Linked DNA regions of Homo sapiens. The protein of the gene in region 2 purifies or fractionates together with the protein of the main gene of each other region. This does not show direct contact. Each region holds a gene or a part of one and is shown on either strand. Other genes may lie near its edges.

The links. Proteins that work in one complex are often made in the same cells at the same time.
Region 1: the proteins of H1-8 (region 2) and RPF1 purify together in Homo sapiens (affinity purification with mass spectrometry; one large-scale study listed by BioGRID and IntAct). This does not show direct contact.
Region 3: the proteins of H1-8 (region 2) and DDX31 purify together in Homo sapiens (affinity purification with mass spectrometry; one large-scale study listed by BioGRID and IntAct). This does not show direct contact.
Region 4: the proteins of H1-8 (region 2) and PUM3 purify together in Homo sapiens (affinity purification with mass spectrometry; one large-scale study listed by BioGRID and IntAct). This does not show direct contact.

Annotation. Positions count from the first base shown.
Region 1 is NC_000001.11:84,489,266-84,492,765, forward strand, and holds part of RPF1 (ribosome production factor 1), read left to right. Parts: intron 1-367; coding exon 368-463; intron 464-1,053; coding exon 1,054-1,207; intron 1,208-3,500.
Region 2 is NC_000003.12:129,540,768-129,547,181, forward strand, and holds the start of H1-8 (histone H1.8), read left to right. Parts: upstream 1-2,407; 5' UTR 2,408-2,451; coding exon 2,452-2,539; intron 2,540-6,414. UniProt on the Homo sapiens protein: May play a key role in the control of gene expression during oogenesis and early embryogenesis, presumably through the perturbation of chromatin structure. Essential for meiotic maturation of germinal vesicle-stage oocytes.
Region 3 is NC_000009.12:132,592,497-132,594,740, reverse strand, and holds the end of DDX31 (ATP-dependent DNA helicase DDX31), read left to right. Parts: 3' UTR 1-1,744; downstream 1,745-2,244. UniProt on the Homo sapiens protein: May have DNA helicase activity and RNA helicase activity. Probably have ssDNA and RNA dependent ATPase activity. Plays a role in ribosome biogenesis and TP53/p53 regulation through its interaction with NPM1.
Region 4 is NC_000009.12:2,809,596-2,813,095, reverse strand, and holds part of PUM3 (pumilio homolog 3), read left to right. Parts: intron 1-733; coding exon 734-876; intron 877-1,512; coding exon 1,513-1,735; intron 1,736-2,664; coding exon 2,665-2,752; intron 2,753-3,500. UniProt on the Homo sapiens protein: Inhibits the poly(ADP-ribosyl)ation activity of PARP1 and the degradation of PARP1 by CASP3 following genotoxic stress. Binds to double-stranded RNA or DNA without sequence specificity. Involved in development of the eye and of primordial germ cells.

The DNA of each region.
Region 1 (3,500 bases), on a different chromosome or scaffold from region 2:
CTCGTAATTTCATTAGTTTTTTTTGGTTCTTTTTTTGTTTGTTTGTTTTGTTTTTTTTGTGGTTATTGTTTTTACTAACCAAGTTGATGAGGGAAATGAAAGTAGTTCAAGAGTAAACACATCTCAGTTTCTGCCCTGAAGTGATTTCTGACAATTTTATTCAGTTTTGTACTTGTATTTTACACAGGAGAAATCCACTCATCCATTCTCTTCACGTGTCCATTAATGTCAGTCCTTCCTAGTCTGTCTTTAAAGCCCCTATCAGCTAGATACTCAGTGTCCAACAGTCCTGCTGATGCTACTTTTAGAATTCTGGCCCAGTAGAGTATTTCTTTGATGTAAAATTATTCCTCTTCTCTGTTCTCAGGTCGCTTATGATGAAGCTACAGATGAATTTGCTTCTTACTTCAACAAACAGACTTCTCCCAAGATTCTCATCACAACATCAGATAGACCTCATGGGGTAAACACATTGATTAATTTAGTTCTTGAATTCTTAATTTTCTTATTACTTCTATTTAAAGTACTCTGTTCAGAAGAGTTAAACCATTAGTTAATTGCCTTAAAGAATGCCTGTGACTAAGTAAATAAAACGTAGCTCTGGTAATATGATGTAGGTTTACTAAACATGATTCTTCAAGATAGGATTTCTCAACCTCAACATTGTTAACATTTTAGCTGGAGAATTCTTTGTTATGGTGAGCTATCCTGTTCATTACAGGATGTTTAGCAGCTTCCCTGGCCTCTATGCTTTAGGTGCCAGTAGCAACCACACACCACTACCACTACCATCAGTCATAACCATCAAAAATGTCTCCAGACATTGCCAAATGTGTCCTCTGATGGAGCAGAATCGCCCCTAATTGAGAACCACTGCTTTAGGATGATCAGCCTTTGATAAAAGAGGACACACTGTTCGAGTTTCATGCTTTCCTCAATGTTGCTTTCTATTAATCATAATAATTATTATTTCTTTCCTTATGAATATGTACCACATAAGATTTTTATTCTTTTTTGAAAACTATTCAAAATTTTTGTTATTTTGTTTTGCAGAGAACAGTACGACTCTGTGAACAGCTCTCCACAGTTATACCAAACTCACATGTTTATTACAGAAGAGGACTGGCTCTGAAAAAAATTATTCCACAGTGCATCGCAAGAGATTTCACAGACCTGATTGTTATTAATGAAGATCGTAAAACCCCAAGTATCCTTTTTTTTTTTAAGGAGGTTTTCCTGTCCTCTCCCTCACCCCCCTTAAAAATATATTTAAAAGAATAAGGAAATATTGCCTATAACTTTCAGAAAATAATTTTTTTATCAGAAAATTGTATCTCTTTCCAAGAGTCTATAAACTGATTTTTCCTTTGTATTCACCAAACATTTATCAGGCACATGCTACAGCCAAGAGATTGTTGTAACTCTTAGTAAAAGATGCAGAGCTAAAACAAGAGACAACCAGGAAATTCATAGGTGGAGTAAATGGATATGTAAACTGACAAAATATAGTGTGGATGGTACAATTAAATAGAGAAATGCAGGATATAGTGGGGACCCTGTGACTGGTACAAAGTCTGCCCTGGGAGGAAAGACTTCCCATAGAAAGAGATGCTGAAGCTGGATCTAGATGGATGAGGGTGAAGGAGGGGAATAAGGCAGAGAAAAGCGCTCAGTGCAGAGGGACTACCATTTGGAAAGAGAGGAAGGAAAGGGCTGACCTAGTTGGGGATCTGCATATGGTTTGTTGTGGCTAGATTTTACATTGCCAGAGGTGGTATCACAGGATTAAGTTTTTGAGGTAGAGACTTGGGCCCATGTTATGTGTGTGTTCCAGTCTAAAACTTTTTCTGTGAGTCTCAGACCTGAGATGAATGTGTCACCTGAACCCAAGGTATTTCTTCCTGTTGAGATAAGAGATTTGATAAAGGATATCTAGGTTTGTTATTATTGTTGCTGTTTTATTTATTTATTTATTGAATGATGGCTATGAGTTCAGTAACCTTAAAGATGACCAATTGAATGAGTCATCTTTATGATTTTTAATTTCATTAAAATAAAATTATAAAGAATTTACAAAATAGGGACAAGACTTTCTGTGCTGCCAGAATAACATTTTATTTCTAATATCAGTGAACACTCTATTAGTGGTTTAAAAGGCTGTTTTTAAAAAATCTAACTTTTATGACTTTAATTGTTATCAATATAACTTACTTTATCCACTTGTACTAGTAGCTTTCCAGAAACTACTATAACAAGCTTTGTAATGTGTTTTGTTGGCCATATTATAATTTGGCTTAACTGGATTAATGTACCAAAATATCTAAAATCTCTTGAATACTTAACTACTCCAGAAAAAAATTATTTTTAAGGTAGTTGCTGCCTCTTTTTCTTTTTTTAAACTGCCTCCACAAAGTGGCAAGGTCTGTTTTCCTCTTTTTATTTTTGGCAGTTAAAAAACAACTGTCATCACTTTGAGGCCACTAGTAACTCTGCTAAGAAGCAGGCATTCATCAATTCAATAAATGTTCTATCCCTGTTTTATCCAGGGTGTTTTATATAGTCACACAAATTTCACTTATACCATCTATTGCCTTTAAAAAGTTTACATTTTCTGGCCGGATGCGGTGGCTCACACCTGTAGTCCCAGCACTTTGGGAGGCCTAGGCCAGCAGATTGCTTGAGGTCAGGAGTTTGAGACCAGCCTAGCCAACACAGCAAAATCCCATCTCTACTAAAAATACAAAAATTAGTTGGGCGTGTTGGTGCATGCCTGTAATCCCACCTACTTGGGAGGCTGATGCACTAGAATTACTTGAACCCGGGAGGCAAAGGTTGCCATGAGCAGAGATGGTGCCACTGCACTCCAGCCTGGGTGACAGGGCAAGACTCTGTCAAAAAAAAAAAAATGGTGATTATCCTAGAGACTTAGCATGGGTTCAGGAATAAAAATCACAACTCCTAATGGTGACACATGGGGGGAAAGTTGAAAAAACAGGATTTAGCCTGTGGGAAAGTAGATTCTAGGAACATGGCGTCTTTCTAAAGACCATTGGAGGGGCTACTGTGTGGAAGAGTAGTGCTGAATGGTGAAAGTTAAAGGGATATACTTTTTTGACTTATTCTAAAATAGAATTTCATCAGCTGTCTAAACTGTAGAAACCTAGTAGTGGCTTTGAGTCAGGGCAGCTGTGATATCAAATACAGATTCCATTATTTTCTAGTTTTGTGATTTTAGTCACGTTTCTTAGCCACTCAATTTCCTCGTTTTTTAAATGTGGGAAATAATACCTATCTTTAGAGTTCCCACAAAGATCACATTAAATGTATTATGTTTATAAAGCATAGTGTCTGGCACATGGTAGGCATTTTAGTAAACGTGGTATAGTGAGAAGCATGTAAACTTTATCTGTACAGACCTACATCCTCTATTCATTATTTCTAAATGGGGAACTACTGTTATTTGAGGTAGGGTAATTATTTGTGCTACACTCTTGGCAGCT
Region 2 (6,414 bases):
TGCATCAATTCAACACACACAGAGGAGACAAAAGGGGCCCGATATCAGCACATGGCCCATTCCAGGAGCCGCAGTGTGGGTGAATTGTGGGATTCAAGCGGGGAGGAGGCTCCTTAAGTCAGACTGAAGAGCATGAACTTTCACCCACGGGCAGTGGGGAGCCATGCAGGATGCTAAGCGGGGGAGTGAAATCTGACTTCACTTTAGAACACTTTGATGACCACAGCCTCCCCGAGTCCAGATCTCTGGTGATGGAGAGCCCTCTGGGAAAATTCCACAATAAAGAGACTACCTAGAGAAGAATGTATGCTGTTTAAAACCCATCCCTTCCTCAGAGGTAACCACTTCTACTATTACCTTGGTATGAATCCATTCAGAACTTTTTTCTACTGCTTGTGACTGGTAAGATAAAAAAACAAAAAAATTTTTTAAAAATTAAAAAGAACTATTGTGCCTTCACACACACACACACACACACACACACACACGCAAGTTTTGTCTTCTCAGTAGTTGGGGTGTACTCTCCGATACATTCTGGTTCACTCCTTTTCACTACTGCATACTACTCCACTGTGCGAATAGGCCACAGTTTACTTGTTCACTCTCCACCTGATGGGCATTTATGTTGTTTTGAATTTCTGCTAAGATTGAAATAAACATCTTTGCACGTAAGTGTATATGTTTGTCTCAGATCTACGCCTAGAGTGGAATAGGTGGGTTGTGGAGTGAGTCCCTCCTTAGTTGTATGAAACATCGCTGAATTGCTTTCTAAGGCGGCTACCAGCTCACTCCCCACCCCCCAGCAGCTATACTTTCCTTGAATCCTAGTCACTCACTATTGATAGACACTTACATCTTTGTCATTTTGCTGAGTGTGAAATACAGCCTCATTCTTGTTTGTTTTCTTTTCTTTCCCTCCCCCTTTTTTTTGGGGGGGGCAGGGTCTTACTCTGTAGCCCAGGCTGGAGTGCAGGGGTGTGATCACAGCTCCCTGCAGCCTTGACCTCCCAGGCTCAAGCAATCCTCCTGCCTCGGCCTCCCAGGTAGCTGGGACTACAGGTGCACACCACCATGCCCAGCTAATTTTTGTATTTTTTGGTAGAGACAGGATTTCACTTTTTTGCCTAGGCTGGTCTTGAACTCCTGGGCTCAAGCGATCCTCCTGCCTCAGCCTCCCGAAGTTCTGGGATTACAGGTATGAGCCACCATGCCTGGCCTCTCATCCTTGTTTTAATCCATCTTGTCATTTTATATTATATTATATTATTTTATTTTATTTTTATTTACTTATTTTTGAGACACAGTTTCGCTCTTGTTGCCCAGGCTGGAGTGCAATGGCTCGATCCTGGTTCACTGCAGTCTCCAGCTCCCAGGTTCAAGTGATTCTCCTGCCTCAGCCTCCCAAGTAGCTGGGACTACAGGTGCACACCACCACGCCCAGCTAATTTTGTATTTTTAGTAGAGATGAAGTTTTACCATGTTGGCCAGGCTGGTCTCAAACTCCTGACCTCAGGTGATCCGCCCACCTCAGCCTCCCAAAGTGCTAGGATTACAGGCCTGAGCCACCGCACCAGCCCACCTTGTCATTTTAGATGGCTGCAGAATATTCTGCAGAAAGGGTGTGATTTAGCCAGGCCTTGGGTGTTTGCTTGGAAAGTTTTTTTTTTTTGTCTGTCAATTTGATGGGAAAAAGTAGTATTTCACCATTGTTTCAATTTGAATTTTCTCAAATGCCAAGGAAGTTGAGTGTCCATTTTCCTGTTTCTGTTCCTCACCCTTTAGGCTGGTGAATTGCCTGTTTATATTCTTTGTCCATTGTCCCAGTGGATGTTGTCCTTATCTATGAAGACTTTTGTGAAGCATCCTCCGTTATTGATTTATTTCTTTAAAAACAAAACCAAAGGAGGGCATAGGCCCAGAGAGCCTGGCTGGCCTCAGAAGGGGCTACTCTGATTGAGGGGCATGTGCTCTGGGCAAAAGTAGCAGTTGGGCTGCCTCCAACTGCTACTTTTTGAGAAATTGAGGCCAGCAGTGGCGTGGGGCAGCCCATTGCCCACCTGGTAGGATTAGAGGGCCGCCTCAGCGGCCTCCCTGACAACACAGGTGACCCCAATTCCTCATCAGCATCTCCAGCCCCTGGTGGGCAGAGGGCACAGGCGAGATCAAGCATCTCAGCTCCCAACATTGCACCATGGGGACTGAGACCCAGAGAAGTCAAGCGACACCCCCAAGCTTACACAGGAGTGGGTAGTCCAGCTGGGGCTCCCTACAGAAGGCAGGATGCTGTGCCCCATTCCACACCTCCAGCCCCAGTCAGCAGCTTGGAGCACTCCCAGCCCAATCAGGGCTGATTGGAGTGGTGGGGGTGGGCTGCTGGTATATAAGCCTAGTGGGCAGGCCCAGCAGCCTCACACCCGGGTGAGGGGTCTGCTGGCTGCACCTGTCGGTCTCATGGCTCCTGGGAGCGTCACCAGCGACATCTCACCCTCCTCGACTTCCACAGCAGGATCATCCAGGTCTCCTGAATCTGAAAAGCCAGGTGAGCAAGAGGAGGCAGCTCCTCCCTCATCCCTGCGAGCCCACTCCCTGGGTTGCCTTTGATGCTCCACCCCTGCTTCTCGTTCTTTCCCAGCCTGGCCCCAGCACCTACCCAGCACCCACCCAGCACTCACCCAGCACTCACCCAGCACCCACCCAGCACCAAGCTGCTGAGCTCAACTGCCTTTTGGCTGAAGAGCTGATCTACAGGTAGCAAGGCCAGGTAGGGCCTGGGGGCTGGGGCCGGCCTCGCTCAGGGAAGAGCCACAGGGCCTTCCAGCTGGAGCCCGTTTCCTGCTGGGACCGTAGCCCGTAGCCAGGCTGCAGCTGTGGGCAGCTAGTTGGAGGGACTGGGGCAGGAGCATTTTATGCAGGGCTAGGCATTCCGATTTTCAACCAAAAAACACCTCAGGGTTTATCTGGACATGAGGGTGCACCGAGGCAAACCAGGCCCAGTTCACTCCCTCGAGGACCTCCCGGTCTGATGGGGAAGCCTGGCCCATGGCTTGTTGCTGTTTGCTAATGTGATGTGTGCTTCAGTGGCGGTAATCCAGAGCTGGAGGAGCCCAGAGGAGTCCTCTAACCCACTCTGGGAGGTCAGGGAAAGCTTCCTAGAAGAGGTGACCCTGAAGGATGGGTGTGCCTCAGCCGGGGGAAGTGTTCTATTTGCCAAGACACCTAGGGAGATAGGGAGGGGGTCCAGGTGCCGAGAAGTAAAAGGGCAGAGTTAACTGGGAAGTCAGAGGTGTCCAAACCAAGGTGCATTTTGAGCCTTGAAGGATGAGTGAGAGCAGCCTGCATGACCGGGAGGAGAGAGGCAGCCCAGGCAGAGGAAACGGCATGGGCTAAGGCCCAGAGGCCAGCGCACCAGCAGCTTGTCTCGGAAGCTGCATCTTCCTTCTGGGAAGGAGGGAAGTGCTGGGGCAGTGCTAGGGGAGCAGTGGGAGGGCCTCCAAGGCGGTCTTCAGTTAGGTCAACTTTTATCTTGAACAGGGAGCCATGGACGGTTTCAAGCAGGGAGGTGAGGGGTGTGAGATACAGCGAGGAGAATGCATGCGGTGGGGAAGAGGCAGTGGGGAGGAGGCTGGGGCTGGGGAGTTGGAGAGGAGAGGCCAGAATATGGAGAGAAAAGCCTATGGGGAGGCCTCGAGTGGGTGTGGTGAGGAGGAAAGGGCCCAGAATGCCCCCAGTTCTTGCTTGGATGTTGGGTAGGTATGGGCAGTGGGGGCATGGGGCATTCCTGGAAGAGAGAGGAGGGGCAGATTTGGGGGGCTGAGCTCTGTTCTGGACATCCTGGTATACAGCAGGCATGGAATAGCTGCCGAATGAGGGGCTGGGATGAGAGGGAACAGACCTGAGGGAGGACTCCTGGGGGTGGCTCTCTGGGACAGACATGGTCTGGGGGAAGCAGAGGAGGGGTTGGAGCTGCTCGTGAAGTCAGGCCAAGCGAAGACCCTTGGGAAGCCCTGTAGCACTGCAGCTGGGAGGGCTCAGACCTCCTTAGAGGCCCCCGTCCCCACTGTACGGATGGGAAGACTGAGGCCTAGAGGGAAGAATGAAACTCCCGAGAACCCGGGAGTGACCCAGGACTACACCAGCTCAACGCCTTTGGCCCCCAAATGAATATTCCCACACTGGGCTCGTCATGGCCAGGACCCAACAGGGGTCGAAGTGATTAGGTCTCTTTATAATTTTGCTCTAGATCTAGAGTTTCATGGTTTTTTTTTTCTATTGAAAAAAAATTTTAATATAGCCAATTTTTTTTTTTTTTTTGAGACAGGGTCTTGCTTTGTCACCCAGGCTGGAGTGCAGTGGTGTGATCTCAGCTCACTGCAGTCTCCACTTCCCAGGCTCAAGCAATCTTCCCACCTCAGCCTCCCAAGTAGCTAGGCCTATAGGCACACACCACCACACTCTGCTCATTTTTAAAGATTTTCGTAGAGTCGAGGTCTCACGATATTGCCCAGAATTTAAGTCTTTAAATTCTGCAGATTGATCAGAAATCAACATTTCCATTCACCACATTTAAATCCGGTTTCATATTTAAATCCCTTTTATGCATTTCATGGTGACTGACAACTTCTCATGCTTCCCCCACCCTTGATCCCACTTCATTTGCAACTATTTTATAACACCTTATTGAGAAATAATTCCCATACAATACAATTCACCCTTTAAAGTGTACAATGGCTTTTGGTATACTCAGAGTTGTGTATCCATCTCTATAATCAATTTTAGAATATTTTCATCACTTCAAGAAAACCAGTACCCATTAGCAGTCACTCTCCACCCCCACTCCCCAGCCCTGGCAACCACCAATCTGCTTTCTGCATCTATGGACTTCTTATTCTGGACATTTCATATAAATGGAATCAGACAGTATGTGGCTTTTTCTGACTGCCTTTTTTCACTTTGCATGTTTCAGGGCTCCTCCATGTCGTAGCCAGGGCTTCACTCCTTTGTATGGCTGGATAATATTCCACGGGATGGGTAGCGACCACATTTTGTTCATCCATCTGTCAATCATTCATCATGGATGTTTGGGCTGGTTCCATCTTTGGGCCGACATGAATAGTGCTGCTATGAACATTCATGTGTACATTTTTGTGTGGACATGCGTTTTCATTTCCCTCAGGTATATACCGAAGAGTGGAATTTTTTGGTAACTTTTTATTATGAAAACTTTCAGGGCCGAGCATGGTGGCTCATGCTTGTAATCCTAGCACTTTGGGAGACTGAGGTGGGAAGATAGCTTGAACTCAGGAGTTTGAGACTAAACTGAGCAATGTAGTGAGACCTGTGTCAAATAACAATAACAATAATAATAATAATAATAATAATAATAATAATAATGATAATAATACAAACATTAGCCAGGCGTGGTGGTGTGTGCCTGTGGTCCCAGCTACTTCGGAGACTGAGGCAAGAGGATCACTTGAGCTGGAGAGGTCAAGGCTGCAGTGAGCCATGATTGTGGCACTGCACTCCAGCTTGGGTGACAGATTGAGACCCTGTCTCCATAAAACAAAACAAAAAACTTTCAAATGGATACAAAAGTAGACTACCAAATGGTCTGTAACTCCCTTCCACTGTACCCGTCACCCAGCTCCAACAGTCACCATCTTGTGGACACTCTTGTTTCATCTGCTGGGTTATTTCAAAGCAAATGCTGGATTTATGTATCATTTCATCTGTAAATATCTTTTATAATATTTACCTTTAACAGATAAGAGCCTTTTAAAAAGCAATTGTAATACCATTAGCACACTTGAAACAATATTATCCCTAATATCCGATATTTCCTTCCAGTGCTCACATTTATCTGTTGCCTTTCTTTTTCCAGTTGGATTGTTCAAATCCTGCTCTGGGAATGAGCATTTGGTTGAGAGGTTTCCTAAGGACCTTTAGTCCATAGGGTGCCCCTCCCACTTTTTCTTTCCCCCCTTATTTGTGGAAGAAACCCGGCTGTGTGCCCTGGAGAGTCTCTCAGTCTGGGTGCCTCTGAGAATGTGCACATAGCCCCCGGAGGTCCTGTAAACCCACAGTTACGAAATTCACCCAATTTAGATTGTTTTTCTAAAGGAATACTCCATTCTTTAAAAAGAGAGATTTGGCTGGGCACGGTGGCTCAAGCCTGTAATCCCAGCACTTTGGGAGGCCGAGGCGGGTGGGTCATGAGGTCAGGAGTTCAAGACCAGCCTGGCCAACATGGTGAAACCTTGTCTCTACTAAAAATACAAAAATCAGCCAGGTATGGTGGCAGCGCCTGTAATCCCAGCTACTTGGGAGGCTGAGGCAGGAGAACTGCTTGAACCCAGGAGGTGGAGGTTGCAGTGAGCTGAGATCACGCCATTGCACTCCAGCCTGGGGACATAG
Region 3 (2,244 bases), on a different chromosome or scaffold from region 2:
TCAGAGGGGCCACAGCCCTTCTCCTCCATGGGAGGCCCTGGAGCCTGATAGAAATCAGTGGTGTGGGGCACTGTAGAGACTAGCCAGCTCCCGACGGAAGGGGTCTGTGTCTTGTATTGATCCCATCAGTGCCCGGCACTCCCTTCACCCAGGTGCTGACGTGCCGGGGTTGAGCTGGCACCCCGGGATGTGATGTAAGAACGCCCTGCGCGTCAGCCTGGAACGGGCTTGATTGCTGCCCTTAACTGTGTTCTGAAGTTTCACAGCTTGGCTTCAGCCTATCAGCGCATACATTGGCATGAATTTTGTGAATTAGGGTGTTAAAAACTGGAATTGAATTTGTACAAAAAGAGAATATATTTATCACTAATTATTTTCTTAATGTAGGAATGTACCGTTAAAAAGGACCAAAAGTTTTTGGTCTGGGTCAAAAAATACGAATGTGTTCTCAGGCTCGTGGTCCCTCTTATTTTCTTCTGGAAACACGAGGTTGCATTTACATGCATTGCTCCCTCTTTCATGTCCACTGAAAACTCACTCTCTCAGGGCTAATTGATTTACTGTTGGCTTTTTATTATTTGCCTTTGAAGTCAAAAGGCACCAGTATCCCAAGCTTTTTTTCCCTATCGAATCCTGTCTTGTCTTCAAGAAAGGTCTGGGGGTCTTTGTATTGTGACCCAGGCCACAGCTGCCCGCCCCCCGCCCCCGACCCACCCCGCCCTGCCCCTGCATTGTGTTTTCTGGGAGGTTTGAAAGAGGCCCCCTGGAGCATATTGATTTCCCAATAAATGTAAGATTTGGGCACTTGCAGAGGGGTCCAGAAGAGAAAGGGTTGGAGGCCTCCACACCTGTGGGCACCGCTCCTGTCCTCTCCACTGTGTCTTGCCTTCTCAGTTTCCTTCTCCTCTGCAGTGACTGTGCCGCCCTCTGTGGTCTCCCCAGGACCAGTGTTGAGGCACCACTTCAGTAGATCCCCCCAGATCCTTGGAAGGTCTGAGTGGCCACGAGAGGGTGGTGAGAGTTGGCAAGGTGGGCCTTCCTGCAGGGACCACGGGGGGTCAGCATCCTTGCCTCCGTTCTAGACACAGGTGAATGTCAGTGGGCACCCACACTGGCGGAGACTCCAGTGTGAGGGCAAGGAGGAGCCTAGTGAGACTGGATCCTCTGCAGGTGGAAAAATAGGACCTTCTCAGAGTTGGCTGTCACATACAAATTAACAGGGACTGTGGGTGACGTTTCTAACAATAATAATTAAAAAACAACAACCCTGCAGCACATGTCAGCCTGGCGTTGGGCAAGTCTGCCACCTTTCTTTTATTTCGATGTGTAATGGTTCACATGATTTGGATGAGAAAAGGAGGGATCAAACTTTATAGACAAAACCCAGCTGTGTGAAAAACAGGATTAATGCCAGTGATTGGGGATGATCAAAGAGAAACCTTACTTTTTCTCCCCCAGTACTCATTCCACTAAAGGGCGAATTGGCAGAGTTCGGCATCCCTGGGGGGAAAGAGAAGTGCTAGAATCATGCAACGTGTGAGTGACGATAATTCCAAGATCAAAACTTACACACTTAATCTGCTAACTCTTATGGTGAGGGTTTCTTGCCATAGATGCTATGTGGGTCTGTTTCTAAGTAGAATCACTATATTACCCCAGTTAATAAAGAAACATGGATTTAGCAGATTTAAGGTTAATATTGTTTAAATTTAAATAACCTTAAAATAAATCTCTTTCTCTTCTATTATGGCTCTTGACAGATTATACATTTCAGGCACCAATTAGGCAAAGCTTTAGCCTAATTCCACTGTACATATTCTAATTTTTGTGTATGTTTAATCATGCCTCTTTTTAAAATTTCCCAAACTTACTCATGTCTCTATATCATAAGCCTGGTTCCCATATTTAGAGTCACACAGAATTTGGACATTTAATAGAATGTTGCAGCCTAAAAGCGTTTCCCCCGAGTGGGCTTGTAGAATGTTTTTTTGGAAACCAAAACATCCTCATGTTTGCCACAGCCTTAGCAGTTGACGGGCCTCATTCTCACGCACTGAAGGGCAGAGACCCCTTGCTGAGAGATGAAGTCCGTGCTGATGTGCAGACAGCCCCTTGCACTCTAGAGAAGCAACGAACCAACCAAATCTCAGTAAAGGACTTTTTTTTTTTTTTTAACGAAGCCCAGTGGGTTATTTTGATTTTTTTCTTTTCCCCCTGGGGTGAAGGGAGGAGAACTTTAGGGAA
Region 4 (3,500 bases), on a different chromosome or scaffold from region 2:
GTTTCCCCTCCTCTTCTGTTTTTGTTTTTCATTGCGGTAGCTAAACAGCCTTCATTTGCCATGAATAAGCAACCTAACTTTAAAAGCCTTTATCCACTTGTTCGATTTAACAGAGTTTCTTTATCTCCTTTCACATACATCTCAGCAGGGAAATTCTAATAGAAGTGTTCTTCATTCATGCCGGTGCTACATTTAAATGCAGCTGCAAGTTAACTGCCTCTACTCAGTGACCTCAGCAAGTGATGTCCCTAGTAATAGTGGCCCAAGAAATACTGGCCATAATGAATGAAGATAACACCTTTAAATATTTTTTAAGTCCTTGGGCTTGGTCAGTTAATACAAATGAGTTGTTCAGTAATGCTAGTCACAAAAGAGAATTGATTCTGTGTTCTAAATGTAAATCTCTGTGTGCTTTAATGACACAATTTCAGAACTAGCTCCACATTTTCCATGAAGTACGCTGGGAAAAATAGTAGTTAAGTATGTATTCTTCACCATTGAAATTCTAGGCATACTTTATTTTAAGAATGTAGATATCAATTCATTTTTTTGTTGTTGTTTATAATTTTATAGGACATTGTGCTCACTTTGGCAGCACATATACTATAATTTTATAGGAAATTATCAGTTCCTTGCTTAGCATAGTAAATGGCAAATATGGAAGAAAGGTCCTGTGGTACTTTGTTTTGAGAATGCAGATATTGATTCTTTTTTTTTGTTTATAATTTTATAGGAAATTATCAGTTCATTGCCTAGCATAGTAAATGACAAATATGGAAGGAAGGTCCTATTGTACTTACTAAGCCCCAGAGATCCTGCACATACAGTACGAGAAATCATTGAAGTTCTGCAAAAAGGAGATGGAAATGCACACAGGTAAAACCAAGTAGAATGGCTTGACTTCTTTATTCCTCTGTTAATGTTGAGTAGTGCATTCTTCCAGAAGTCCACTTACCCATCCATACCCTCTCTAAAACTGCTGAAAAGGTGAATTCCATTTTCAAGCCTATATTTTTGACAGATTCTAAAGTTTTTATCTTGACAAGGAAATAAAAGTGTCGTGCCAAAAGAACACCTGAGCACCTGGCACATAGTAGGCATTCAAGTGCGTGGTTTGGCTTTTATTTTGCTTTATTTTCAAAGCTACCGATACCACATATTTGAGTACCCTAGAGTATGGTGTCCATACAGCAGTGTAAATGTGTTGTTTTCTGGGTATGTTATTTGGTTTTTGGATTTTTTTTTTTTTTTTTTTGGTATTACACAAGTCAGACTCCCTTTATTGAGCCCTTGTTCTGTGCCAGGCACTATTCAGATCGTGGGACACAAACATTTTTAAAAACAGAACACATACTCGTATCACTTATTGTCTACATGCTTAACAGAAAGATAGACAATAATAATAGAGTGCGATACAGTCTGTGATAAGCTCTTAGAGGTTTTTGTGATAATATCACCACATTTCCTTTGCGATTTATCTTACCTTAATACCCCGTTCAACATACTCAACAGTAAGAAAGATACAGAGGTCCGCAGACGGGAGCTCCTAGAATCCATTTCTCCAGCTTTGTTAAGCTACCTGCAAGAACACGCCCAAGAAGTGGTGCTAGATAAGTCTGCGTGTGTGTTGGTGTCTGACATTCTGGGATCTGCCACTGGAGACGTTCAGCCTACCATGAATGCCATCGCCAGCTTGGCAGCAACAGGACTGCATCCTGGTGGCAAGGACGGAGAGGTAATGTGCCATTAAAGCACAGGCAGGAAAGCTGCAAAGGCCACAAAAACTTCGTTTTTGGACGATGTGGGGTGTCAGTAAGAAAGCTGGGGAGGGAGATACCTGTTGAATAAACAACCAAGAACCTCTCACAGCAGCAATTACATTCATCTTTAATTTTCTCTAACCATCTGGGTCAAAGCCTGGTACTTGGGAATGTTTTACAGATGTGAATTTGCTTATGAATGAAATCATTGCCAAGTATTGAGTGCCCAAGGTGCTTCTGACACCTGCGATTGGGGAAGAGAAGTGGGCCATGGATCTTAGAGAAGCCCTGGCTCCTGACCATATTAACAAATGGGAAAGATGAATGTACCTTGAAAGTTTCTCTATAAGGAGACTGAGCCGGTTGCCTCCCATACTTGCTAAGGAGTAGCCCAAATAACTGGGAACGCTTGGTATTGCTCTTGAAGAGGAGTAAGGTTGAGCTGAAAAGATGCTTTCTTGATTCGCTCATCAGATAATCCCCTTCGGTGGTCATGTGTACTTAAACAGCATGCAGCATTGGGTTTTGATGTTTGTGCTATAGTGTTCTGTCCTGTAGGTTTATTTGTGTCTGAGAATGACATATTTCAATCCAAGACGTGATTAGCATTAAGATGAGCCTTGTGCTGCTACTGTTCAGAGCAGATTAAATGAAGCGGAGACTGAAGCGCTGTGCCGTGGCTGTGTTATCTGGCATAACTGTCTTTCAGTCTGGGGATCAGAATAGATCTGTGGTCCCCCCAAGTATGATGGTTGTCCTAGATAAAGACCTCTTAAGCCTGTGGAACTTTAAAAGTGGCTGAGTCCTTATCTGTATGTGGTGGCATAAATAGTATGTATTCATTCAAATGTATTTGTATGAATGAAAACAACTTTTAAAATTAACTGTTCTTGACCCTTCATAGCTTCACATTGCAGAACATCCTGCAGGACATCTAGTTCTGAAGTGGTTAATAGAGCAAGATAAAAAGATGAAAGAAAATGGGAGAGAAGGTAGGCTATGAAATTTGACCTTTTCTTGTATCTCATGTGGAATTCCAGTAATTCCTGGCATCCCTGAACTTTATACCAGCCATTTAAGCTCAAATGAAGTTTGCCAAGTGTCTAGAAATGGTGTCTGTGAATAAGAAATGATTCAGTGGTTGCTGGTAATGCTTTTTCCCCTAGAAATATTTGTGCCTGAGAACTCTTTTAATTTTCTTTTTTCCAAACCCCCCCCGCCAGCCCCCCCCACCGCCCCCTCACTCTCTCTGTTTTCCTTCCTGTGCTGCTGCAGGCTTCTAACCTGGCTTGGTCAATGCCTTAAAATGCCATTCTAATGAGGATGGTGAGAGGGGGTAGGGGGCCCCAATTGTTGAGTATCATTACCTCAGTAGAAAGGCATGACATTTATCTCTATGTTTGAAGAAAGAATAAGCAGAAGAAGATTATCCTCGTAAGAGAGTTTTGGACTAGTGCCTGTTTATTTGGCATTGAAATACATGTGACCAAAGAGTAAGCCAGTCTTTGGCGCTTTCTGGTTTTTTGTAAGCCTTACAGCTGCTCTGTAGAAACTCAGCTCTCTAGAGAAGGACAGCATTAGCATTTGCATGCCATTCCCCTCTCAGTCCTATCTCCAACCAGACCTTCACTTACAAAATCCAAATTCCATCTGGTATTTAAACCACTGGAGAGATTTTTTTCCCCTACTGAGTTAAAACAGTTTGGGCTTTTCATTACAATGTCTGGAAAAAAGTGACAG